Homo sapiens: one gene and its partners. The protein of the gene in region 1 purifies or fractionates together with the protein of each later gene. This does not show direct contact. Each region holds a gene or a part of one and is shown on either strand. Other genes may lie near its edges.

The links.
Region 2: the proteins of ANAPC2 (region 1) and ANAPC1 fractionate together in Homo sapiens (co-fractionation; 8 studies listed by BioGRID and IntAct, with this or other methods). This does not show direct contact.
Region 3: the proteins of ANAPC2 (region 1) and ANAPC16 purify together in Homo sapiens (co-immunoprecipitation; 5 studies listed by BioGRID and IntAct, with this or other methods). This does not show direct contact.
Region 4: the proteins of ANAPC2 (region 1) and NEK2 purify together in Homo sapiens (affinity purification with mass spectrometry; 4 studies listed by BioGRID and IntAct, with this or other methods). This does not show direct contact.

What each region holds. Positions count from the first base shown.
Region 1 is NC_000009.12:137,185,533-137,192,828, reverse strand, and holds the start of ANAPC2 (anaphase-promoting complex subunit 2), read left to right. Parts: upstream 1-4,268; 5' UTR 4,269-4,296; coding exon 4,297-4,413; intron 4,414-4,725; coding exon 4,726-5,348; intron 5,349-6,472; coding exon 6,473-6,605; intron 6,606-7,296. Other genes in the region: TPRN (taperin), read left to right, coding at 138-378, 464-570, 655-717; microtubule nucleation factor SSNA1, read right to left, coding at 2,915-3,022, 3,564-3,763, 4,051-4,102. UniProt on the Homo sapiens protein: Together with the RING-H2 protein ANAPC11, constitutes the catalytic component of the anaphase promoting complex/cyclosome (APC/C), a cell cycle-regulated E3 ubiquitin ligase that controls progression through mitosis and the G1 phase of the cell cycle.
Region 2 is NC_000002.12:111,881,169-111,888,502, forward strand, and holds the start of ANAPC1 (anaphase-promoting complex subunit 1), read right to left. Parts: upstream 3,026-7,334; 5' UTR 2,774-3,025; intron 1-2,773. UniProt on the Homo sapiens protein: Component of the anaphase promoting complex/cyclosome (APC/C), a cell cycle-regulated E3 ubiquitin ligase that controls progression through mitosis and the G1 phase of the cell cycle.
Region 3 is NC_000010.11:72,233,006-72,236,388, forward strand, and holds the end of ANAPC16 (anaphase-promoting complex subunit 16), read left to right. Parts: coding exon 1-111; 3' UTR 112-2,855; downstream 2,856-3,383. UniProt on the Homo sapiens protein: Component of the anaphase promoting complex/cyclosome (APC/C), a cell cycle-regulated E3 ubiquitin ligase that controls progression through mitosis and the G1 phase of the cell cycle.
Region 4 is NC_000001.11:211,672,593-211,679,556, reverse strand, and holds the start of NEK2 (serine/threonine-protein kinase Nek2), read left to right. Parts: upstream 1-3,935; 5' UTR 3,936-4,077; coding exon 4,078-4,173; intron 4,174-5,043; coding exon 5,044-5,261; intron 5,262-5,833; coding exon 5,834-6,074; intron 6,075-6,964. UniProt on the Homo sapiens protein: Protein kinase which is involved in the control of centrosome separation and bipolar spindle formation in mitotic cells and chromatin condensation in meiotic cells.

The DNA of each region.
Region 1 (7,296 bases):
TGGAGCCCCCGGAACGGTTGATGGTGTGTCTGGCGCCCCACTTGGGTCAGCCTCATCCTGAGGGCTGAACCTGAGCCCCTGGCATCACTGTGCCCATGTGGGCCCTCAGCCCTCGTTCACGTGACTCTCACTCCCAGATGAAGATCTCCTTCAACGACAAAAGCCTGCAGACCACATTTGAGTACCCTTCCGAGAGCTCCCTAGAGCAGGAGGAAGAGGTGGACCAGCAGGAGGAGGAGGAGGAGGAGGAGGAGGAAGAGGAAGAGGAGGAAGAGGGATCCGGCTCAGAGGAGAAGCCCTTTGCACTCTTCCTGCCCCGGGCCACGTTTGTGAGCAGCGTGAGACCCGAGAGCTCTCGGCTGCCAGAGGGTAGCTCAGGTGAGTGCCCACCTGGGGGACAGGCAGCCTGGGAGGGGTGGAGCCTGGTCTGTGTCCACGTCTGCATGTGCACCTCCATTCACAGGCCTGTCCAGCTACACCCCGAAGCACTCTGTGGCCTTCAGCAAGTGGCAGGAGCAGGCGCTGGAGCAGGCCCCGAGGGAGGCAGAGCCCCCGCCCGTGGAGGCCATGGTGAGATGCGGGGGAGTGGAGCGCTGGGGGGAGTCTGACACCCGGGCGAGCCCATGTGTCCACATTCTGTCCTCTCACTTTCAGCTCACACCCGCCAGTCAGAATGACCTCTCGGACTTCCGCAGCGAGCCAGCCCTGTATTTCTGAGCCCAGCACTGCCAGGACCAAGGCTGAGCCCAGCTGTGGGAGTCCCGGAAGCTGGGCAGTAGCCAGGGACTACTGCACCCGCTTCTGCCTTGTTTGGCCTCACTGTATCCCACCCACCCCTCCTGGCCCTGGAAGCAGCTAGGGTGCCTCCTGCCATCGGGGCCAGGTCTGGGTCTCACTCCCCGGCCCTGATTTGGGAGGGTCCAAGGGGGAAGTGGGGTGGGGAACTGCCTGTGGGTGAGTGCCAGGGGCCTGCTGGGTGGTGGCCATCTGCGACCCGGCAGGGGGCTGTGCAGATTCTGCACCTGGCCATTCCCTGTCCTGTCTCCTCAGCCTGCCTCACAGTGGCCATGGGGTGTCGGGGTGAAGGGCTGTCCCAGCTACTTGTCCTCTGCAGGACCCTAAGCCCCTGCCCGCAGCCCACATGCCCTCTGTGATGAGTGGCGTCTTTCCTGCCTCTGATGATGGACTCAATAAACAGCACTGGACAAGGCTGCTGGTGTCCCCACTGCGTGGTCCTTGGCTGAGAAGGGAGCAGGGGGAGGTCTCTGCAGGAAGAGGCCACATGGGGTCCAGTGGGCCCCAGTTTGCACGTCTATGCCAGGGTGTGTGGGAGGTGACCCCGATCTGGTACCCCCACTCCTTGATGTCCCAGTGGCCAAGGCTCTGACCTCCCAACTTCCATGGCCTGTTAACCTGTTGCCCCTCCACCCCAGCCTCCCAGAGCTGGCACTGTGGGAGGTAGGATGACAGGCCTGCTGTCAGGGGCCTAGACTTCAGGTGGGAGGGTGAGAGTGTTGCAGCTGTTGGGCCTGAAGTGGCTTCTCTGAGGGGCCCAGAGCCTGGGGAGGGACCAAGGGAAGGGCAGCATGAGGGCAGCACAGGGGACGGTGTCTTCTGCTGGGCTTGGCGTGCCCCCCGACCCACAGGATGAGGCAGGCCGGGAGCAGCGCCTGCCTCAGACGGCCAGAGCTGGGGCTGTTTACAGCCCATGGAACCCAAGCACCATTTCCTCCCTGGAGGATCAAACCTAAGAGCAAAGAGATAAAGAGATGCTGTCTGGCCAAACTCCGGCGGAAGGAGAGTTTGGTGTATTTCCCTGGTCGGGTTAGGCCCAGCTCTTTTCTGGACCCTCTGGATCAACACATGCCTCCCAAATCGGCCCAGTCCTCGGGCCATGCTTGGTTGCTGCAGGGACAAAACAGAGGCCCCAGGGCACATGGAAGGATGGAAGTGGCCAGTGCTTGGTGTGCGGCCAGGGAAAGGTGGGCAGCAGGGCCTGGTGGCAGCAGTGGTGTCATCAGGCCAAGCAAAACTTGCAACTGAGGAACCGACGGGGGTGGGGGGTGTGAACTCCCCCCAGTCCTTGCTGAGAGGGACCTGAATCTGAGGCAGCTGCTGGATATGCTTGGCATCCCCAGCTGTCTCTCTGGGCTGGGTCCTATGCTGGCCACCAGGGTGTGGCAGAGAACAGGACGAGCAAGCAGAGCTCCTGAGAGGAGGGTGAGCCGTGGGCCAGTCAGGGGAAGAGGACCGGCGGCCCTGCTGGGGAGGGCTCAGGGTGGGGCTGGCCTGGGGAGGGTGGGCACCCTCAGCGGTGTCCCTGAGGCTAGTGGGGCAGTCACAGGGAGGCCACTCCAGACCCTCCTCCCTCCTCTCCCAAGGGGGAGCCTCAGGCTCTGGCTCTGCAGGTGTCTGGCAGCCCCATGCTGTTGATACGGGCAAGCAGCAGGCTGGCACGGATCTTTACAAAGATAATCTTTATTCATAATCACAGGCCACAGGGGTGAGACCTGAGGTTTGGGTTCTGTGGTGAAGGAGAACCCCTGTCCTCCTGTCCCTTGCCCTGGGCCTCTGCTGGCTGAGGAGGGACAAGGTGAGGGGGCCCCCATGGTGCTCAGACAACCAGAGCCTCCCTGGCAGGGCAGGAGTGTGGGTGCCACAGAGACAAGCCCCTTGCAGAGCTGACCTGGAGCCCACCATCCCCATAGCCTGTGTGAGCATGAAGCGAGGACCCCCGGGTGGGCTGTGCCCTGGGCTTGTCACTGATGCCAGTGGAGGCTGGCACCTGCCCCTCTCGGCACCTGAGACAGTGAGGGAAGGTAGCTGCTGCCGTGAAGAACAAAGATGCTCTGAGCACACACTTGCTGGGGCTGAGCTGAGGGGCACACGGAGGCAGGCCCTGCCCGTGGTCTGGTCAGCTGTCCCTGCCGCCGCTACTTTTCTGGTCTGGGGCTGTAGCCTTGGTCAGGTTCCCAGCTTCCCTCTTGAGAACGCTGAGCAAAGTCTGGGAGCTCTCCAGGATCTGGGGCCAGAGAAGTGAGAAGGTTGTTAATGTTCACCTGTTGGTAAGGTCCTAAGCCCCAGCTGTCCTCACACTCAGGTGCTGGGACCTGGCTGGGGGTGCTGTAGCCAAGGGATCCTGTGTGGGGGAAGGCGGAAGCCCAAGGGGACTGGCAGACGGGGTGGCAGGGCCCTCTTCCCTCCGGAATCTGACCCAAAACACTTCCTCTCCACCCTCAAAGCCAGGCTGGGTTAGCACTGGCCCGTGCTGGGTGCTCTGCCCAAGACCTGGCTCTTCACACTGAGCAGAAATAACCACATGGCTAGCGAGAACCGGATAAAGACCAGGACCCAGGATGCCCCAGGCCCCACAGACAGCCCCACAGTCACTCCCACAGCAGCCTGGGTTCCTCAATGGGCCTGGCCACGCTGCCCCTGCCCGAAATGCCAGCGAGGCACAGACTGCCCACAGCCGGGAGCCCCAGCCGGTCCTGACGCCTTGCCGTGGCAACACCCCTGCCGTGCCTATCCCCTGATGCTCGGCCTGGCCTCCCGAGCTCCACCTTGAGGTAGGCGGCCTCCGTCTCCGCGATGGTCCGGTCGAACTCGTTGCGAGAGGCAATCTTGCGTGCCAGGTTCTCGTTGACGCGGGCCAGCTTCTCTGTCAGCTGCCTCACCTCATTCTGCAGCCGCTGCTTCTCGTCCTCCTCCTCCTGGATCTGCCGGCACAGCTCCTCCCGCTTCTGGCACAGCTCCTCTATGCCTGGGGGCCGGGAGGGGCGGCGCTGTGGGCCCAGGGCAGGAGCGCGGCGGCGGAGGGCGGGCCTCCTTCCACCCGAGGAAGCCAGAGTCAGGCACCACCCCCGAGCGCCCGGCGCGGGGCCTGCGAGCCAGCGAGGGCTCGGGCCACGGACACCCGGCCTCCGGCACGGAGGGCTCTGCTCAGCCGCGCGATGCCCGCAGCGAGGCGGGTCCAGGGGCACCCCGCTGCGAGCCGGGAACCCGGCCCTGCGGCCCTCCCGACCTCCCCGTCCCGGCTGCGCCGCTCACACTTGACCAGCTCGTTGTTGTAGTTCTGCAGCGCCGCGCCCTGCTGGGTCATGGTCAACGCCGCCCGGGGCCCCACCACCCCAACCGCCGCGGAAGCAGCGCTGTCCGCGCCTGCGCACGACTCCCCCACGGCGCGCCGAACTAGCGCGTCATCGCTGAGCGCCTTGTGCGCGTCATGGCTGCGCGTGCAGACGTGCGTCATCGCCGCGCGCCGCGCCGAGCGAATCTCGGAGTCGGTGGGTGCAGATGGCGGCGGCAGTTGTGGTGGCGGAGGGGGACAGCGACTCCCGGCCCGGACAGGAGTTGTTAGTGGCCTGGAACACCGTGAGCACCGGCCTGGTGCCGCCGGCTGCGCTGGGGCTGGTGAGGCCTGGGAAGAGAGGGGCGGCCCCGCGCGGAGTTTCCGGGACCGTACGCGCTTTGGGGCCGCTACCCTCGGGTTCATACGGCTCTGTCCATCATCCGCCTCTGTCCTGTCCTGCCATTTTCCACCACCTTTCCGTTTCGTTTCGTTCAGCTCCGCTGACAGCCCTTCCATAGCTTCGGCCCAACGTCCGGGCAGCACGGACAGGGGGCAGCGGAGTTTTTGCAGCCTCCCCCTCAGCTTCTTCCCTTCCCCGCCTCTCCCCACCTCTATGTTGTGTTCCCCTCGCCTCACGGTTTTCTGCACCCCAGGTGTCTTCCCGGACCAGCGGTGCAGTCCCGCCAAAGGAAGAGGAGCTCCGGGCGGCGGTGGAGGTTCTGAGGGGCCACGGGCTACACTCGGTCCTGGAGGAGTGGTTCGTGGAGGTGCTGCAGAACGATCTGCAGGCCAACATCTCCCCTGAGTTCTGGAATGCCATCTCCCAATGCGAGAACTCTGCGGATGAGCCCCAGTGCCTTTTGCTACTCCTTGACGCTTTTGGCCTGCTGGAGAGCCGCCTGGATCCCTACCTGCGTAGCCTAGAGCTGCTGGAGAAATGGACTCGCCTGGGCTTGCTGATGGGCACTGGTGCTCAGGGGCTGCGAGAAGAAGTCCACACTATGTTGCGCGGAGTCTTGTTCTTTAGCACCCCCAGAACCTTCCAAGAGATGATCCAGCGTCTGTATGGGTGCTTCTTGAGAGTCTATATGCAGAGTAAGAGGAAGGGGGAAGGGGGCACAGACCCGGAACTGGAAGGGGAGCTGGACAGCCGGTATGCCCGTCGCCGGTACTACCGGCTCCTGCAGAGCCCGCTGTGTGCAGGGTGCAGCAGTGACAAGCAACAGTGCTGGTGTCGCCAGGCTCTGGAGCAGTTCCATCAGCTCAGCCAGGTCTTGTGAGTAGTCTGTCCCGATGGCCATGCCCTTGCTCCTTCTGGTTCCCCGCTGCTCCCCTGGGTCCAGCTGGCCTCAGCAGAAAGCTGGTGAGCCGTCCTGATAACCAGGAACATGACAGAGAGAGAGTCCCAGGGATTCCTGTGCAGCGTGTCCTGGACACAGGTGTCTCTCTTCTGTCACTCACCTTCAGTCCCACAGATTCATGCCTTGACCCTGGTAAGGCCCTATGTGGCTTGTGTCTGCAGCAGCAAATTTCTTAGCAACTCCAAACTTCCTGGACTCTGCAGAATTCCACTGTGCCTTTTGTCGATCCTGGGGAGGAATGATTCTCACCCTCGTCGACATTCCTTGCCCTGTAATTGTGAACAGAAGCTTGCTGCTGCTTCTCTCCAGGAAGATCAGGTCACTGTGAGGGCAAGCAGTCTCTTGTTAGTTTGGAGAGGAGAGGGGTTTGTTGTGAGAGACAGGTCCTGTTGTAGTTCTCTAGCAATTGTCATACCCTTGGCCATTTGTGGTGGTTTTGTCACATTGAACGGGGGTGTAGCCATGCAGCTACTTGAGAGGTCTTAGGTGGACTAAAGGTGGACTAAAGGAGTGCTCCTTTTGCTGGCAGGGGTCAGGGAGACCGTGAAGGGCTTCTGTTGGGCTCATCCCTGCAAAAGTTACACGGCAACTTTTCTCATCCTCCTCTTGAGTCCTTTTGTCACTGTAGACCAGAGACTGCACTGAAAGGCACAAACAGTGGCATCTGTACCTCTGCGGCCAGGGTAGCAGTGCAGTTGGTTGTCGTTTCAGAGTTGATCCTAGGAGATAAGGCTAGGGCCCCCGACAGCCACACCTGCTGCCACTGATCACATGGGGAAGGCCAGTGTCCCTACCTGGATAGAGGCCAGCTGGGCGGGGACAGCAGAGCCTGGGAGTGCTCTGTGCTCCCAGTGGCTTCTTGAAGCCTTTGGTACAACCGCCCCCCACAGCTGAGGATTGTGGGGAGGTGTGTGCTGGGTGTGTGTGTGTGTGTGTGCTGCATGCACTCTACAGGCAGGGCAGTCCTGGCATGGGGCTGTTCTGGGCTAGAGGGGCCGGTGTGTGCTCTGGGTGCCCCATGGCCAGGGCTCTCCTCTAGACACAGGCTCAGTCTGCTGGAGCGGGTCAGTGCCGAGGCTGTGACCACCACCCTGCACCAGGTGACCCGGGAGAGGATGGAGGACCGTTGCCGGGGCGAGTACGAGCGCTCCTTCCTGCGTGAGTTCCACAAGGTGAGGACCCCTCCCTTGGGCTGTGCCCCGCTGGAGACAGGGGAGTAGGTTTCTGGCAAACCTGACACCTGGCTTCAGAAGCATCCAGAGCACGGAGGCCTGGGTGGGCCCAGACCGGGTGGTGGCTGGAGCTGTCTTGATGTGGGGTAGAGACCAGTACTTCTGGGCCCTGGTGATAGCGAGGACGCATCTGAGGTGCGCTCTTCGGATCTGCGCAGAATCCCATGGCTGCAGGCGGTATCGGGCCAGGATCCCGAGGGGGCTACCTCAGGCAGGTGTGGCGAAGCTGGGCCCACCAGAGGAGCCACTGAATGGATCCCCTTCTCCTGTTTGCTGCCCTACTTGAGTGTGGACTCGCTTGGCCGGTCCCTAATGGACTGACCTACAGCCAGCCTGCACCACAGCGGGGAGCGAGACACCCTCACATGGGGCCTCCAGGCACCTGTGCTGTTGGGGTGTGGTCTGGGGCTCTGCTCTGGGCTCCCGGAGCCATAGGGGAGCTGGGCCCAGCCATGTGGGTCCCCCCATCCTGTTCCCATGTGTCACCTGTCCTTTCCTCAGTGTTTCAGAGTCCCCCTACTGAGGTGCAGATTGGCTGTGATGTTGGGTTTTCAAAGAGGGAGGGTGTCCCCAAAGCGGTGGGCAAGAGTGGGTAGTAGGGTGGAGAGGGTGAACATCCGTGCGGTCTTGC
Region 2 (7,334 bases), on another chromosome or scaffold:
GACAAGTTGTATTCTATGGTCCCATAACTACATGGCTTTTCAACATTTAAGGTCATTTCTGGTTAGATGCCAGAACCTCATTTGAAAAGTACATCTAAGGGATCATTGTCATATTGGAATAAAACAATAAAAAACCACACATTACTCTAATTCATCAGAGGTTGAACTGCTTTCAGCTGACCAATCTACAAAAGACATAGGTTTTCAAATGTCTTAAGTAGCTGTGACACCCCCAATCCCACCTAAATATATAACTACAATCAATTTCAATTATTGGTCGAAACCCAAAGAACCGAGGCATGAATAACTCTAGCCATGGAACAGTTATGCTTGCAGATTTAAGGGTACTAGGTTTTAATTAATTATTACATCTAATTAATCTAATTATTAATCTATTACAGTACAGTTTATTACTAAAAAAATGTGGATGAACTGTTAAAGCCTTCATCACAAGGTTAGGTAGCAGCCAGGCTTTAGACAAAAGTACAGATAAGCATAATTAGATTGTCCTTCGATCCACTTTCCTGTACCTGTTTATATATACCATGTTCCTATAGACAGCATTTTTAATGTTAGGAGCCTAAGACTTTTGAGATGATGCAAGCTAGTCTTAAGACCCCATCAAGGAACCACATTAGCATGAGAATGTGGTTTATCTCTCTGTCCTATGACTTCATCCTTCATTCTCTGACCAATCAATACCTTAACCCACTACCCTCTCTTTAAAACCTCTGGACCGGGTGCGGTGGCTCACGCCTATAATCCCAGCACTGTGGGAGGCCAAAGCAGGCGGATCACTAGGTCAGGAGATCGAGACCATCCTGGCTAACATGGTGAAACTCCATCTCTACTAAAAATACAAAAAATTAGCTGGACTTGGTGGCGGGCACCTGTAGTCCCAGCTACTCGGGAGGCTGAGGCAGGAGAATGGCGTGAACCCAGGAGGCGGAGGTTGCAGTGAGCCGAGATCATGCCATTGTACTCCAGCCTGGGCAACAGAGCAAGACTCTGTCTCAAAAAAAAAACCAAAAGCAAAAAAAAAACCTCTAGACCTTAACTCTTTGGGGAGGCTGACTTGAAGTTTCCTCAGTCTCCTAGTTCGGTGGCCCTGCAAGTAAAACACTTTATCTGCTGCAATCCCCGTTGTTTCCGTGTATTGACTTGCTGCTCATAGGGCAAGAATCCTATATGGTTACACAAACAGCCAAAGCCTATGTAGTTCCTTTGCAGCTCCTCCAAAGCCACAAAGTTATTTTGCTGTGAATTAAATGTTATTCTTGGCCAGGCACGATGGCTCACGCCTGCAATCCCAGCACTTTGGGAGGCTGAGGCGCGAGGATCACCTGAGGTCAGGAGTTTGACACAAGCCTGGCCAACATGGTCAAACCCTGTCTCTACTAAAAATACAAAAAAAAAAAAATTACTCAGGCATGGTGTGGGCGCCTGTAATCCCAGCTACTTGGGAGGCTAAGGCAAGAGAATCGCTTCAACCTGGGAGGCAGAGGTTGCAGTGAGCCGAGATCGCGCCATTGTACTCCAGCCTGGGGGACAAGAGCAAAACTCCGTCTCAAAAAAAAAAAAAAGAAAAGTTATTCTGGATATAATTATGTCACAAAACATGACACAAGTTTTGTTCTTCCTCCTGCTAGAAATAAATGAGTACTGGGACACTTGAACTTGGAACACAAGTAAAAAGTGCCTTATAAAACTTACAAGGGGCAGGGCGTGGTGGCTCACGCCTGTAATCCCAGCACTTTGGGTGGCCGAGACGGGTGGATCACGAGGTCAGGAGTTCAAGATCAGCCTGGCCAAGATGGTGAAACCCCATCTCTACTAAAAATACAAAAATTAGCCAGACAGTGATGGCGGGCGCCTGTAATCCCAGCTACTTGGGAGGCTGAAGCAGAGAATTGCTTGAACACGGGAGCCAGAGGTTACAGTGAGCTGAGATGGCGCCACTGCACTCCAGCCTAGGAGACAGAACAAGACTCCTTCTCAAAAAAAAAAAAAAAAAGAAAACCCCACAAAAAAAAAAACCTTAAAAGAAAACAAAATTCAGCTGGTCTTCCTATATTTTATTCAACAGAATAACCAACATCAACGAACTTTTGACTTTATGAAACTTTAGTTCTGCAATTTTATAATGTTATTTTCTTATAACTTTGAGAGAAAATTACAGAATTGTTAAAGAATTATCATTTTGTACCGATTAATGCCACATATTTAATACTTTTTCAGTACCCCAAACTTTTAGAAATGTTTTTACTTGTTAGGTGCAACATAAACAGCTACACGTAAAAATACTATTAAATTTATATGCTATAAATAACAGTATCAGCAATGATTCCTACAAACACTACCCTGCCAAAAAAAAAAAAAAGAGACCCAAATGCACACTAACGGGAGCTTAAGTCTCCACAAGAGCTTCCCCAGCCTTTCTAGAGGACGGTGAAAACAGGCTGAGAGCCCGAGGCTCAGAAAAACAGCTCAGAGGGGCTGGAGGCCAGTCTGAAAGCTGAGGCTGCACATGGGATGCTACGCACAGCTCAGGAAAGAGGTTGGCAAGCAGGAGCCGGAAGGAGCACCCCAGCCCGCAGGCCAGGAGCGCCCGCAGGCCCCCTCAGCCCCGGAGCACGCTCAAGGCCCTCCCTCGGGTTCCCAGTACCCCGGGTTTCCAGACCTACGGCCACCAGGGGAGGCTCGGCCTCGGGACGGGTGCGAGAGTCACGCGGCGCGCGACAGACCACCAAGTGCTGCGGTACGGCGCCCGCACCTGTATAACTCGGGACGCGTCAGGCGCGGCGAGCCCCGGCTGCTCCCCGGAGGCGCAGGGGCCGAGGAGGCCCGAGGGCAGCGGCGGGGTCCTTCACAGTGACTCTTGGGCCGCAGCAGCTTCTCATTCCCTCTCCCTCCCCTATTCTGGAGGAAGAACGGGCAACAGCAGCGGGCTCGAGTGCTAATGGCAGGAAGGCGTGCGAGACGTTCAAATGGACGCGTCCATCTTGACTTTCCCGTCTTGCCTCGCGCCGGGGCGGGGCATCGCGGGAGGTGCGCGGCGTCCTAGCAGTCCTGGCGCCTGCGCTGTTGAGGGAAGACCGCGGCGGGTTACAACTTGGGGGCTATTTCCACCTTCCGTGCGACTGATGCGAACCCCGAAGCCGGACTCTGTCTGCTACAGTCCTGGCGTCCAAGTTCTCTTTAGCTCATGTCACTAGGGACCTGAACTGCCTTATAGATCTCAGGGTTTTTTCTTCTGGTTTCGCTTCCGCCTCCTGACCCCACGTGGAGGTAGGCACCTCAGGCTGAGGGTGGGGAGCAGGGGTTGCTGATTTTCTCTACGTGCAGTGAATGCTCTATGCCTTTTTCGGTCCATACTCTTCGAAGAGTGGATGAACTGTGTGAAGGTCCTCACAGAAACGTTGCTTGCAATTCCCAGATTCAGAGACACTTCTTAAGGCGATTCAAAGACCCAAGTTAAGAACCCCAGCGGCCACTCGCGCCTGTAATCCCAGCACTTTGGGAGGCGAGGCGACAGGATTGCTGGAGCCCAAGAGTTTGAAACCAGCCTGGGCAATATAGCGAGACCCTGTCTCCACAAAAGAAAAATTTTTTTAATTAGCCTGGAGGCGTGGTGCGCACCTGTAGTCCCAGCTGCTTGGGAGTCTGGAGGATCACTTGAGCAGGGAGTTTGAGGCCACAGTGAGCTATGATCGCGCCACTGCACTCCATCCAGCCTGGGCAACAGAGCAAGACCTTGTCTCAAAAAAAAAAAAAAAAAAAGAATGGGTTATAGGAGAAAGGTTAGAAACAAAGATTCATGAAACAGTTAAATACAAATATACCTAATTGATATTTTAAACTTTTGTTTGTGTGTGTGTGTGTGTGTGTGTGTGTGTGTGTGTGTGTTTTTCTTGAGACAGAGTCTCGCTCTTTCGCCCAGGCTGGAGTGCCGTGGCACAATCTCGGCTCACTGCAACCTCCGCCTCCCGAGTTCAAGCAATTCTCCTGCATCAGCCTTCCAAGAAGGTGGGATTACAGGCGCCCGCCACCACGTCCAGCTAACTTTTGTATTTTTAGTAGAGACAGGGTTTCACCACGATGGCCAGGCTGGTCTCGAACTCCTGACCTCGTGATCCTCCCGCCTCGGCCTCCCAAAGTGCTAGGATTACAGGCGTGAGCCACTGCGCCCGGCCAATATTTTAAACTTTTTTAAAAAAAAAAAGTTTAGCAACCCCATCAAAAAGTGGGCGAAGGACGTGAACAGACACTTCTCAAAAGAAGACATTTATGCAGCCAAAAAACACATGAAAAAATGCTCACCATCACTGGCCATCAGAGAAATGCAAATCAAAACCACAGTGAGATACCATCTCACACCAGTTAGAATGGTAATCATTAAAAAGTCAGGAAACAACAGGTGCTGGAGAGGATGTGGAGAAATAGGAACACTTTTACACTGTTGGTGGGACTGTAAACTAGTTCAACCCTTGTGGAAGTCGGTGTGGCAATTCCTCAGGGATCTAGAAATACCATTTGACCCAGCCATCCCATTACTGGGTATATACCCAAAGGACTATAAATCATGCTGCTATAAAGACACATGCACACATATGTTTATTGCGGCACTATTCACAATAGCAAAGACTTGGAACCAACCCAAATGTCCAACAATGATAGACTGGATTAAGAAAATGTGGCACATATACACCATGGAATACTATGCAGCCATAAAAAATGATGAGTTCATGTCCTTTGTAGGGACATGGATGAAATTGGAAATCATCATTCTCAGTAAACTATCGCAAGAACAAAAAACCAAACACCGCATATTCTCACTCATAGGTGGGAATTGAACAATGAGAACACATGGACCCAGGAAGGGGAACATCACACTCTGGGGACTGTTGTGGGGTGGGGGGAGGGGGGAGGGATAGCTTTAGGAGATATACCTAATGCTAAATGATGAGTTAATGGGTGCAGCACACCAGCATGGCACATGTATACATATGTAACTAACCTGCACATTGTGCACATGTACCCTAAAACTTAAAGTATAATAATAAAGTTTAGATTTACAGAAAAACTGCAGATAGTCCAAAAATTTCCCACATACCCTATACCCAGTTTCTACATCCAGTTTCCCTATTATTAGTATTTTACATTAGTATAGTACATTTGTTAAAATTAATGAAATATCAACACATTATTAGTAATTAAAATTCATACTTTATTCAGTTTTTTTTAAGAGAGTCTTGCTGTGTTGCCTAGGCTAGAGTGCATTGGCACAAACACAGCTCACTGCAGCCTTGAACTCCTGTGCTCAAGCAGTCCTCCTGCTTCAACCCCCCAAGCAGATGGGACTCCAGGTGCAAGCCACTGCATTAGTTTGTAGAATATCCCTTAACTGAAATTTGTCTGATGTTTCTTCATGATTAGCCTGGGGATATGGATTTCAGGAAGGAAGATCATAAAGTGTCATTTTCATCACATCATATCAAAGGTACTTATCAACAGTATCACTTATCGCTGCTGATGTCAACCTTGATCACCTAACTGAGATAGTGTTTGTCAGATTTCTCTACTATGATGTTACATTTCCCCACTTTCCATATTGTACTCTTTGGAAGGAAGACAATATGTGCAGCCCTCAGTTACAGAGTGAGGCCAGTTGATTTTGTTGTTGTTTTACAAACTTGCAAAAGCAAATGAAGGAGGGAAGCATCTTTTCAACAGTTAGTGTTGCAATATTTGTATATTCAGATGGAAAAAATGAATCTTGATTCATACTACACACCATATACAAAAATTAAAGTGCATCAAAGACCCAGATATGAGAGTAAAGCTGCCGGGCGCGGTGGCTCACGCCTGTAATCCCAGCACTTTGGGAGACCAAGGCAGGCGGATCACCTGAGGTCAGGAGTTCAAGACCAGCCTGGCCAACATGGTGAAACCCCATCTCTACTAAAAATACAAAAAATAAATAAATAAATAAAATAGCCAGGCGTGGTGGCAGGCGCCTGTAATCCCAGCTACTCAGGAGGCTGAGACAGGAGAATCACTTGAACCTGGGAAGCGGCGGTTGCAATGAGTCGAGATCACGCCATTGCACTCCAGCCTGGGGTACAAGAGCGAGACTTCGTCTCAAAAAAAAAAAAAAAGAGTAAAGCTATACACTTAGAAGAAAACATAGCTGTAAATCTTCATAACCTTGGATTAGGCAATGATGTCTTAAATATGGTACCTAAAGCACAAGGAACCTAGGAAAAAATTTGATAAGTTGGAGAAAAGTTTTAAATTTTGTGCTTCAAAGGTATTGTCAAGAAAGTGAAAAGACAACTCACAGAATGGGGGAAAAGATTTGCAAATAATCTGATAAGAGTCTGTTATCCAGAATATGTGAAGAAGTCTTACAACTCAACATAAAAAGACAACCCAGTCTAAAAATGGGCAGAGGATTTGAACGACATTTTGCCAAAAATATATTATACAAGTGGCCAAAAAGGACGATAAAAGATGACCAACATCATTAGTCATTAGGGAAATGTAAGCCAAAACCACTTCACACCCAGTAGGATAGCTGTAATCAAAAAGACAGACAATAACAAGTGTTTATGAAGATTTGGAGTTATTTGACCCCTTGTACATAATTGATAGGAATGTAAAATGGTGCAGCCGCTTGGTAAAACAGTTTGACAGGTTCTCAAAAAGTTAAACGTTGGTCTCTTCCAGGAGCTACCGCCAGAAGATGGCAGCAGCCGCCAAGTTGTCACTACTAGAGAAGTCCCTGGGACTGAGTAAGGGGAATAATAAATAAAGTGCTCAGGATGAGTGACAGATTCTGGTTCTTCAAACAAACAATGGTCCAAGTCTAACAGGATTGACTACTATAGCAGCTCATCTAGTCAAGCAAGCTAACAAAGGATATTTGCTAGGGAGTACTGCAGAAGAAAAAGCAATAGTTCAGCAATGGTTACAATACAGAGTCACTCCAGTAAAAATGATAGCCACACACTGGTTTTTTTTTTTAGTTTTTTTTTTTTTTGAGATGGAGTCTCACTCTGTCACCCAGGCTGGAGTGCAGTGGCGCTATCTCTGCTCACTGCAAGCTCTGCCTCCTGGGTTCATGCCATTCTCCTGCCTCAGCCTCCCGAATAGCTGGGACTACAGGCGCCCGCCAACAACGCCCGGCTAATTTTTTTGTATTTTTTTTATTAGAGACAGGGTTTCACCATGTTAGCCAGGATGGTCTCGATCTCCTGACCTTGTGATACGCCCACCTCAGCCTCCCAAAGTGCTGGGATTACAGGCGTGAGCCACCATGCCCAGCCCACACC
Region 3 (3,383 bases), on another chromosome or scaffold:
CAAGTTGCTCGGATGGAAAAACTAGCTGGTTTGGTAGAAGAGCTGGAGGCTGACGAGTGGCGGTTTAAGCCCATCGAGCAGCTGCTGGGATTCACCCCCTCTTCAGGTTGATACTGCCTGGATGGTCACCTCTGGTGCGCAGCAAGTGCAAAGCCAGTGGGGGACTTTCTCACAGCTTACATAGCCATCCAGAGATCCACAGCTACGTCACTGAATTGTTAATGCACATTTGTACTTGGTTTCTCTGTATCTATTCACAGGCAACAAATACTTATATGTGTGATCTTTCAGGGAATGTTTTGTTTATTTGTTTTTAAAAGTATTGGGAATCAGATTAAGACAATCAGTTTCAGAGAACCAGGAGGTTTGGGGTTAAGAGATACTCAAAAATTTTCACAAGCCAAGTAGGGCATATATCAGATTTGGCCAACTGAATGGCGTCTGTCCTGTCATCCATATGGTGCCTGGAAATATTTACCAGTCAAGGTCAAGGTCAGCATCTGTGGTTAAAAATATAGCATTCTGACCTAAAAAAGTTATTTTGCAGATGAATGTGTTTTCAACTCAGGACCTATCCAAATGAGGAATTTTTAAATATTCTTTTTTTTTTCCTATTTTTAGACATCAATTCTATAGATTCTGACTTTTTCTAACCTCTTATAGACATGCCAAATGCTGGCAAAAAGAAGTGCTTTTTGGATATGGCAGCACTTGTAAAAATAAAGCAGTAAGCAAAATCCTTTTAAACACAGAAATCCTGAGTTCTTCTCATTGGTGGACTCAAGCAATTCTGTAGCAAATAAATCCTTTGAAAGAGCTCCAAATTGGTGGCATTATCCTTTCAAAATCTCAGGGATTTGGGATGAAGTGAAGAGGTCAAATTACTTTTTAGAAGAAGGGAATCTAAAAACCATCTCTCCTAAACAAATGGTAGACTGGCTTTACTTAAGGGATATTTGTCTTTATAGGAGTACATAAATTTATCTTAATGATATTTAAGTAGTTTTTTTTTTTTTTTGAGACGAAGTTTTGCTCTTGTTGCCCAGGCTGTATCGCAATGGCGCGATCTCTGCTCACTGCAACATCCACCTCCCAGGTTCAAGCAATTCTCCTGCCTCAGCCTCCCAAGTAGCTGGGATTACAGGCACCCGCCACCACACCCAGCTAATTTTTTGTATATTTAGTAGAGACGGGGTTTCACCATGTTGACCAGGCTAGTCTCGAACTTCTGACCTCAGGTGATCCACCTGCCTCAGCCTCCCAAATTGCTGGGATTACAGGCGTGAGCCACCTTGCCCAGCCAATTTTTTTTTAAAGAGACATGGTCTTGCTATGTTGCCCAGGTTGGTCTTGAACTCCTGGCCTCAAGAGATCCCCCCAACCTTGGCCTCCAAAGTGCTGGGATTACAGGCATGAGCCACCGCGCCTGGCCTCAAGTAAGTTTTTATACCATGATAGGGGAAAACCTGGAAGGCTAAGAGATGTGCTGTTTTCCTTCATGGGACCCCACTTTCCACAGTAAACAACTGGTATAATCATTTATTACGTTGTATGCAAATTTTGCCTTAGACAACATTTGTCTGGTTCCTTATTAATAACTTGCATCTGATCTGCTTAGAGTTGCTTAATTATAAGTAAATATAATCCCAGTAGCATTTAGCCTTAATCTCAAGAGTTCAAAATGTTTAACACATTCTACCTGACGGGAGGTGGTGACCTCATTCAGTCGGTTAAGAGCCTGAGCCCTGTGAAGTTAAACACCTGCTCATGGTCACATAGCCCAGGCAGAAGAAAATCTCGGACTTGGAATAGATCCCAGTTGCCTGATAATTCATCTCATTATTGCCTCTAAAGCAAATTGGAGACTGGGCACAGTGGCTCCCACCTTTAATCCCAGCACCTGGGGAGGCTGAGGTGAGTGGATCACTAGAGGTCAGGAGTTCAAGACCAGTCTGGCCGACATGGTGAAACTCAGTCTCTATTGAAAATACAAAAATTAGCTCAGTGTGGTGGCACACACTTGTAATCCCAGCTACTCAGGAGGCTGAGGCATGAGAATCGCTTAAACCCAGGAGGCGGAGGTTGCAGTGAGCTGAGATCACACCATTGCACTCTAGTCTGGGTGACAGAGCGAGACTCTGTCTCAAAAAAAAAAAAATAAAGCCGGGCGTGGTGGCTCACGCCTGTAATCCCGGCACTTTGGGAGGCTGAGGCAGGCGGATTGCCTGAGATCGGGAGTTCGAGACCAGCCTGGCCAACATGGTGAAACCTTGTCTCTACTAAAACTACAAAAAAAATTAGCCAGGCGTGGTGGCGGGCGCCTGTAATCCCAGCTACTCAGGAGGCTGAGGCAGCAGAATCGTTTGAACCCGGGAGGCGGAGGTTGCAGTGAGTGGAGATCGTGCCTGTGTGCTCCAGCCTGAGCAACAAGAGCGAAACTGTCTCAAAAAAAAGAAGAAAATAAATAAATAAAAATCAGAGCACAAGAAGTACCAGTCCACCAACTCACATTTTCTATATTAATAATTCTTAACTAAAAGAAGTTCCATATTCGACAGCATTTTAGTTTTTTAATAGTACTTATTAGCATCAACCATCTTGATAATCACCAAGGGAAAAATTAAAAATACCTAGACTGCAATAAACCTTTAAATTGGATTTTCAGTGAGAATTTAGAAGCAATCACTACCTTTCTCGTTTCATTTGTGTAACCATGCAGCATAGGCACTGTGTTACATCATCTTTACGCTTTGGTATTTGAACTTATTACAGAATTTTTTCTCTAAATTGGATGTTTCTTTATATGACCTTGGAAACTGAAGTGATCTTAGCATTAAACAAAAATGCTTTTTGAAGCACCTTTCTCATTGATCACTTAGCTGCTATTTTAGTCTTACCAAGAATAAGACTCTCACAATTTTTTAAAGAGAGTACCTCCCTCTCTATACCTTTTTGTCAGTCATTATGTTGCATCGTCCACAACGCCTGTTACTATGCTTTGGGCTCAAAGATGGTCCCAGTTGCTGATCTGTCATCTGTCTTCTCTTGTGCCAGTCACTCACAGGCATGAATTATAATCCTCTGAATAACACAGCAAGATACGTAATACCCCCTAATATAGAAAAGGAACTTGAAGCTCAGAGCAAGTGTCACTTGCCAAGGCTGCACAGCTAAGTCAATGGCCAAATCTGGATTTAAGTTCAACTCAGCCAGAATCCAAAGCAGCTTCTTTTAGATTCACTATGCCACATCCCACCAAACCCAACCCAGCACATTGTATTAGGAAAAATCCTAAAACTTTTGATTAAATGGTAAAAGGAAGTAACTACCTGGAGAAAATAAGGCTTCCGCTACCTTCCGTCCTCCCTCCCAGGGCTTGGCAA
Region 4 (6,964 bases), on another chromosome or scaffold:
TATTTATACTTGTTGGAGGATGAATTTTCCATTTAATAAGGCAGAGAAGATACATGCACATGAGAAGCTAGTAATATGGCCTAGTATAATTCTAAATGAGTAAAAACACAGTTGATTACTCTTAAGAGTAATTAGAAGATAGATCATAGTGGGTTGAAGTCAATCAGGAAAAATTTCAGAGAAGAAATTGGGCATGAGCTGAGACTTAAAGAATGGATGGAATATGAAGGAAAAAGGAAAGAAGTTATAGGGGAAAGGATGTTCCCTGTAACCTGTCCCTGTTTGACTCCCACATGCTTCTCATCTCCCAGTGTCTCTTTCTATTCTGGTGTCTAGTGGTCTCTGCTGGGCTGTCCTGCCCTCACTCATGATGCGGGCTAACTCTGGCCAACCTTTAGGGTTTGTCATGTGAGTGATTCCTATGCTACCCTTTTTTTTTTTCTTTTTTTTGAGACGGAGTCTTGCTCTGTCGCCCAGGCTGGAGTGCAGTGGCGCGATCTCGGCTCACTGCAAGCTCCGCCTCCCGGGTTCACGCCATTCTCCTGCCTCAGCCTCCCCAGTAACTGGGACTGCAGGCGCCTGCCACCACACCCAGCTAATTTTTTTGTATTTTTAGTAGAGGCTGGGTTTCACCATGTTAGCCAGGATGGTCTCGATCTCCTGACCTCATGATCCGCCCACCTTGGCCTCCCAAAGTGCTGGGATTACAGGCTTGAGCCACCGTGCCCGGACTTTTTTTTTTTTTTTTTTTTTTTTTTTTTTTTTGAGACAGGGTCTCGGTCTGTTGAGCAGGCTGGAGTGTGGTAGTGCAATCTTGGCTCACTGCAACCTCTGCCTCCCAAGTTCAAGCGATTCTCCTGCCTCAGCCACCCAAGTAGCTGGGACTACAGACGTGCCACCACACCCAGCTATTTTTGTATTTTTAGTAAAGGCAGGGTTTCACCATACTGGCCACACCCAGCTAATTTTTGTATTTTTAGTAGAGGCGGGGTTTCACCTTATTGGCCACGCTGGTCTTGAACTCCTGACCTCAGGTGATCCGCCTGCCTCGGCCTCCCAAAAGGCTGGGATTACAGGCATGAGACACCACACCCAGCCTCCTGTGCTACTCTTTATTATTGTCTTTGGGGCTCCACTGTCTTTTTTTAAATGAAAAGCCAGCATGTCAATACCTATCATACCTGGGCCATAGCAAGTGCTCAATAAATACTTGTTAAATGAGCATATGTGCGTAGGAGCCACATTCCATACTCTTGGGATGGCTCCTTTCCAGATATTTCGTCTCTGCCTAGAGCTGGGGCATTTGGCAATTGAGTACTTGAGGGCCCACTCAAAATCCTTGCATAATTATTAATAAGGGGCTTTCGCAGATTTTTATTTAACGAAGCTTTATTGCATGCCTTCTCTATTACAGGACTTATGCTGGCTATAAGCAGTTCGGAGTTCAGCTACTGTGAGAGCCATGTAAACAAATAATGATAAGTTTTGATTTATGTATAAAGTGGTCTATGAACACTGTAGATGGAGGATTGACTGTCCAAGTACGCCAGAGAGGCTTCTCAGATTACAGGAGAAAAAGTTGGAATTGAATCTTGAAGGACACGTTATGTCCTCTGGGCAGACATGACTGGAGTGGATAAGGGAGTGGGTTGGACAGTATTCTGGACAAATGCAATCACAGGTGCAAAGATGGTGGTGGTGGTGAGGAACTGAGAAAGTGTGCGTTTAGAGCAAAAGCAGAAGTGGCCAGAGAGAAGGTGCAGGACTGGATTTGGGGCAGGATAACCAAACGGCTCATTTTTTTTTTTTTTTTTTTCTTGAGACGGAGTCTCACTCTGTCGCCTAGGCTGGAGTGCAGTGGTGTGATCTCCACTCACTGCAACCTCTGCCACCTGGGTTCAAGCGATTCTTCTGCCTCAGCCTCCCGAGTAGCTGGGATTACAGGTGCCTGCCATTGTGTCTAATTTTTGTATTTTTAGTAGAGACGGGGTTCACCATGTTGGCCGGGCTGATCTTGAACTCCTGACCTCGTAATCCACCCGCCTTGACCTCCCAACGTGCTGGGATTACAGGTGTGAGCCACCGTGCCCGGCCAGGGCTCTGTCTTATACAGTTTCATGTTGCTATAATAGGATGCCACAGACTGGACAATTTATAAACAATAGTTTATTTGGCTCACGGTTCTGGAAGCTAGGAAGTCCAAGATCAAGGGGTAGCATCTGGCAGCAGCCTTTTCTCTGGGTCATAAAATAGCAGAAGGCATCACATGGTAAGAGAAACAGCAAGGGAAAGCCAAACTCATTTTTATAACCAACCGACTCTCAAGATAACCCACTCCTGTGATTACGTTAATCCATTCGTGAGGGGTAGCCCTCATAACCCAATCAATTTAAAGGTCTCACCTCTTAACACTTTTGCATTAAGAATAGTTTCCAACACATGAACTTTGGGGGATACATTCAAACCACAGCAAGCTCTATGGATACCAATCTGTAAGAGGCACAAAAATAAAAAAATGATGCTAATTAACACAGCCACTTGCAGTGCCTTACATAACTTTTGAAACCTAAATTGGTCCTATTCCCCTGAGGTAAGACAGTGCCCTTGAATGTTAATTTAAAAATTCTCCTGGTTGGCAATTCCAATTATCTTATGTTATATTCAGGGCATGTAATAAGTCCCTTATTTTTACATAAAGAGCTTTTAAATTCTTATTAATAGAAAATCAGGTGTCTTTTAATCCTTTGCTGAACAGATATTTAAAGAAAACTGGCCTGTTCATGCATTTCCAAATTATTAGCTTTCTGGTAATTTACATATTCCTCTAACAAGCCCTGGATGGAGGCCTCTAAGTCCTCCTTCCCTGGTAAACATGGGGCTGTTCATTTGGCTGGGTAAGCTGAGAACGTTGGTGTGTGGGTGCGTAAAAGAGAATCTGTGTTCAATGAAGTATTGTCGATAGGGTTAATTGTGTATTTGGCACACATAAACGGGACAAGACGTGTAAAGTACTTGGTAGGAGAGCGACAGTATTTCTCCTTTTTTTTTTTTTTTTGGAGACTGGGTGTCACTCTGTCGCCCAGGCTGGAGTGCAGTGGCGCACGGCTCACTGTAACCTCTGCCTCCCAGGTTCAAGCAATTCCTCATGCCTCAGCCTCCCAAGAAGCTGGGATTACAGGCCTGCAACCCCATGCTCTGTTACTTTTTTTTTTTTTTTTTTCATTTTTAGTAGAGACGGGGTTTCGCCATGTTGGCCAGGCTGGTCTTGAACTCTTGGCCTCGAGCAATCCGCCCGCCTCGGCCTCCCAAAGTGCTAGGATTATAGGCGTGAGCCACAGCGCCCGGCCTAATTTTCGTATTTTCAGTAGAGACGAGGTTTGCCCTGTTGCCCAGGCTGGTCTGAACTCCTGGGCTCAAGCGACCCACCCACCTCGGCTTCCCAAAGTGCTAGGGTTACGGGCGAGCGTGAGTCACCGCGCCCACCCGGGAGTCTGTATTTCTAATTTGTATTCAGCTCTCAGCATATCCTCAACGTGACCCCACCCAGGTTCAGGGTACTGGAACCTGAGCGAGGAATGCGTGTGCCGGGGAGAGTAGGTAGTGTGAGGGGCCAGAGTGCAAAGGTCAGAAGGCATCTGGTGGAAGCGGTGTGCAAAGAAGCCTGAGGGGAGGACCTTAGATCTCGGTTACCTTGGCGATCTCTATCAGAGGGTTAGAGTTGCCGAGAGGCGCCAGCTGCCGCTTCCTCTCTCCCGCCCTCCGTTTGGCTTAGCTCGCCGGGTTCTCCCACAGGTTAAAAGCAGACGCCGACGCGGTTGCCTAGTGACACTTTTCCCAAAATGCCTAGGGTATTGTTGTGTTCTTCTTAGCCAATGAGAGAGGCGAAGCGGCCCACCGCCTGCCAATAGACTGCGAGATCAGGGCCCGCGACGGTTAAACGGGGCCCAAGGCAGGGGTGGCGGGTCAGTGCTGCTCGGGGGCTTCTCCATCCAGGTCCCTGGAGTTCCTGGTCCCTGGAGCTCCGCACTTGGCGGCGCAACCTGCGTGAGGCAGCGCGACTCTGGCGACTGGCCGGCCATGCCTTCCCGGGCTGAGGACTATGAAGTGTTGTACACCATTGGCACAGGCTCCTACGGCCGCTGCCAGAAGATCCGGAGGAAGAGTGATGGCAAGGTGAGCGTGGGACCTACCCTGCGCCTGCCCCTGCTTAGGTTTCGTCGCCTCGGGGCGAGCGCCCTGCGCCACCGAAGGGAACCGACAGGGCTGAGGAAATGGGTGCCCGGAAGACTAAACCGTCTTTCCTGGGTCTGCATCTGACAGCCTGTCCTGGGTGGCTTAAAGGATGGGAGACCGCTTCTTTTGATATATGTATTTCCATCTTTTCCCGTTTCTCTCCCCATTTCTCTCTTTCTCCTGCTTTGGCTTGCTAAGGACCTTCCATTGGTGACAGGTAACTAATTCCTGAGCTGTTTTTAGAGCTCTAAGAGTGGCCCTCTCAGGCACAAGAAAGGGGCAGGACTACCAGAACCCGAAGCTTTGTATCTGCAGTCAGACTCCCTCAAAATATCCATTATTAGGATTATTGGATTCATATTTCCCAATGTATATAGGTAGAACTTTTACAGAAAGTAACATTGGACAGGAAACTGCCTGGCTGCTGATGGAGGGATCTTTACCAAGGTGTCTCATCCTGGGAAAACACGACTGGGGTGGAATGGGGCAGGGACTTTGACCACCTTCACCCCAATTTTGACTATAGTACCTTTTAGCCAACTTCCCACTAACCAACTGAGGGTAGGGGTTGGGGGAGTCCTCATGTGCCTCATTCCCGTTTGTCTCCCCACAACATACATTTACTGCTTAGAACTGGAGGAAGATTATGGAAGTAAACTCACAGCTCCTTAAGTTCATTGAACTAAATTAGATAATGACCTTGATTGTAGGATATAATTAAAAGGGAGGTAATTTGTTAAATCTTGGAACTTTCATTCTTTGTTTTTGAGCATAATGAGTTCATTCATACCTTGGAAATTCTTATTTCAGATATTAGTTTGGAAAGAACTTGACTATGGCTCCATGACAGAAGCTGAGAAACAGATGCTTGTTTCTGAAGTGAATTTGCTTCGTGAACTGAAACATCCAAACATCGTTCGTTACTATGATCGGATTATTGACCGGACCAATACAACACTGTACATTGTAATGGAATATTGTGAAGGAGGGGATCTGGCTAGTGTAATTACAAAGGGAACCAAGGAAAGGTAAGCATAATCTTTTAAAAATGTAAGCTGAAATTGGTCTAGTTTCATTTATTTTAAGCATCTTGTTTTAGGATCAGTAATATGGAAGAGTGTATTTGTATTTGTTTGGTAGGTCCACAGTACTTTAGAAAATTCCTGGTGAATCAACACCCATATTTTATATCAAAATAACAATTTATAGGCTGAGTGTGGTGGCTCACACCTGTAATCCCAACACTTTGGGAGGCCGATGCGGGAGGATCACTTGAGCCCAGGATTTCAAGACCAGCCTGGGCAACATAGTGGGACCCTGTTTCTACAAAAATTAGCCAGGTATAGTGACATGTGCCTGTAGTCCAAGCTACTTGGGAGGCTAAGGCAAGAGGATTGCTTGAGCCTGGGAGGTCGAGGCTGCAGTGAGCCATGATCGTGCCACTGCATTCCAGCCTGGGTGACAGAGTAAGACCCTGTCTCAAAAAATATAAATAAATAAATAAATAAATTCCCTATTTGTACACTGGATAATTTATATCATCCCATCTTGGCAATGATTTTTTTAGAAGTTATATGCTGTATAACTGCTTTGGTTTTAGGCAATACTTAGATGAAGAGTTTGTTCTTCGAGTGATGACTCAGTTGACTCTGGCCCTGAAGGAATGCCACAGACGAAGTGATGGTGGTCATACCGTATTGCATCGGGATCTGAAACCAGCCAATGTTTTCCTGGATGGCAAGCAAAACGTCAAGCTTGGAGACTTTGGGCTAGCTAGAATATTAAACCATGACACGAGTTTTGCAAAAACATTTGTTGGCACACCTTATTACATGTCTCCTGTAAGTATTTCAGAATTTAGCTACTTTTTAAAACATCTTTTATTTTTGTTTTCTTGTTTGTTTGTTTTTGAGACAGAGTCTCGCTCTGTTGCCCAGGCTGGAGTGCAGTGGTGCGATCTGGGCTCACTGCAATCTCTGCCTCCCAGGTTCAAAGGATTCTCCTGCATCAGCCTCCTAAGTAGAGTAGCTGGGACTACAGGTGCATGTCACTATGCCTGGCTAATTTTTGTATGTTTAGTAGAGACAGGGTTTCATCATGTTGACCAGGCTGGTCTCGAACTCCTGACCTCAAGCGATCTGCTCACCTCAGTCTCCCAAAGTGTTGGGATTACAGGCGTGAGCCACCATGCCCAGCCAAAACATCTTTTAATGTTAAGCATTCTGAAGCAGGGAAATTGAGTTTTCTGTTTGTTTAGTAATATCTAGTAGCCAAGAATTGAAAATACTGTTATATTTTTCCACATGGACCACCAGACCAATAAAGTCTATATCAGTTTTTGTTTGCTGCATGAGTTATGTGCATTAATGTAAGTATGATGAAGACAGATTCCTAGTCTAAGGTTTGCGCCGTTTGTCATCTCTCACTGGGTTCAATTTTTTGAGCATTCATGCAAATTAAAGCATATTCAGTTCAAGCTTTTATGGAATGACTATGATGCATTAAACTCAAGGATTACAAAAATGAAATGGATTTTGTCCTTGCCCTCAAGAGTTGTTTCCCAATGTGTAGGTCCTAGTTATCTGCATCAGACTCACTTGGAGTGTTTGTTTAAAATGCAGAGTTCTGGGTCCCAAACCCAAACCCAAATCCATCGAGTGAATTTCGATCTCTGGGTGGGTTCTTGAACTCTGTTTTTTTTTTTTTTTAATATTTTACTTTTTATTTTAGA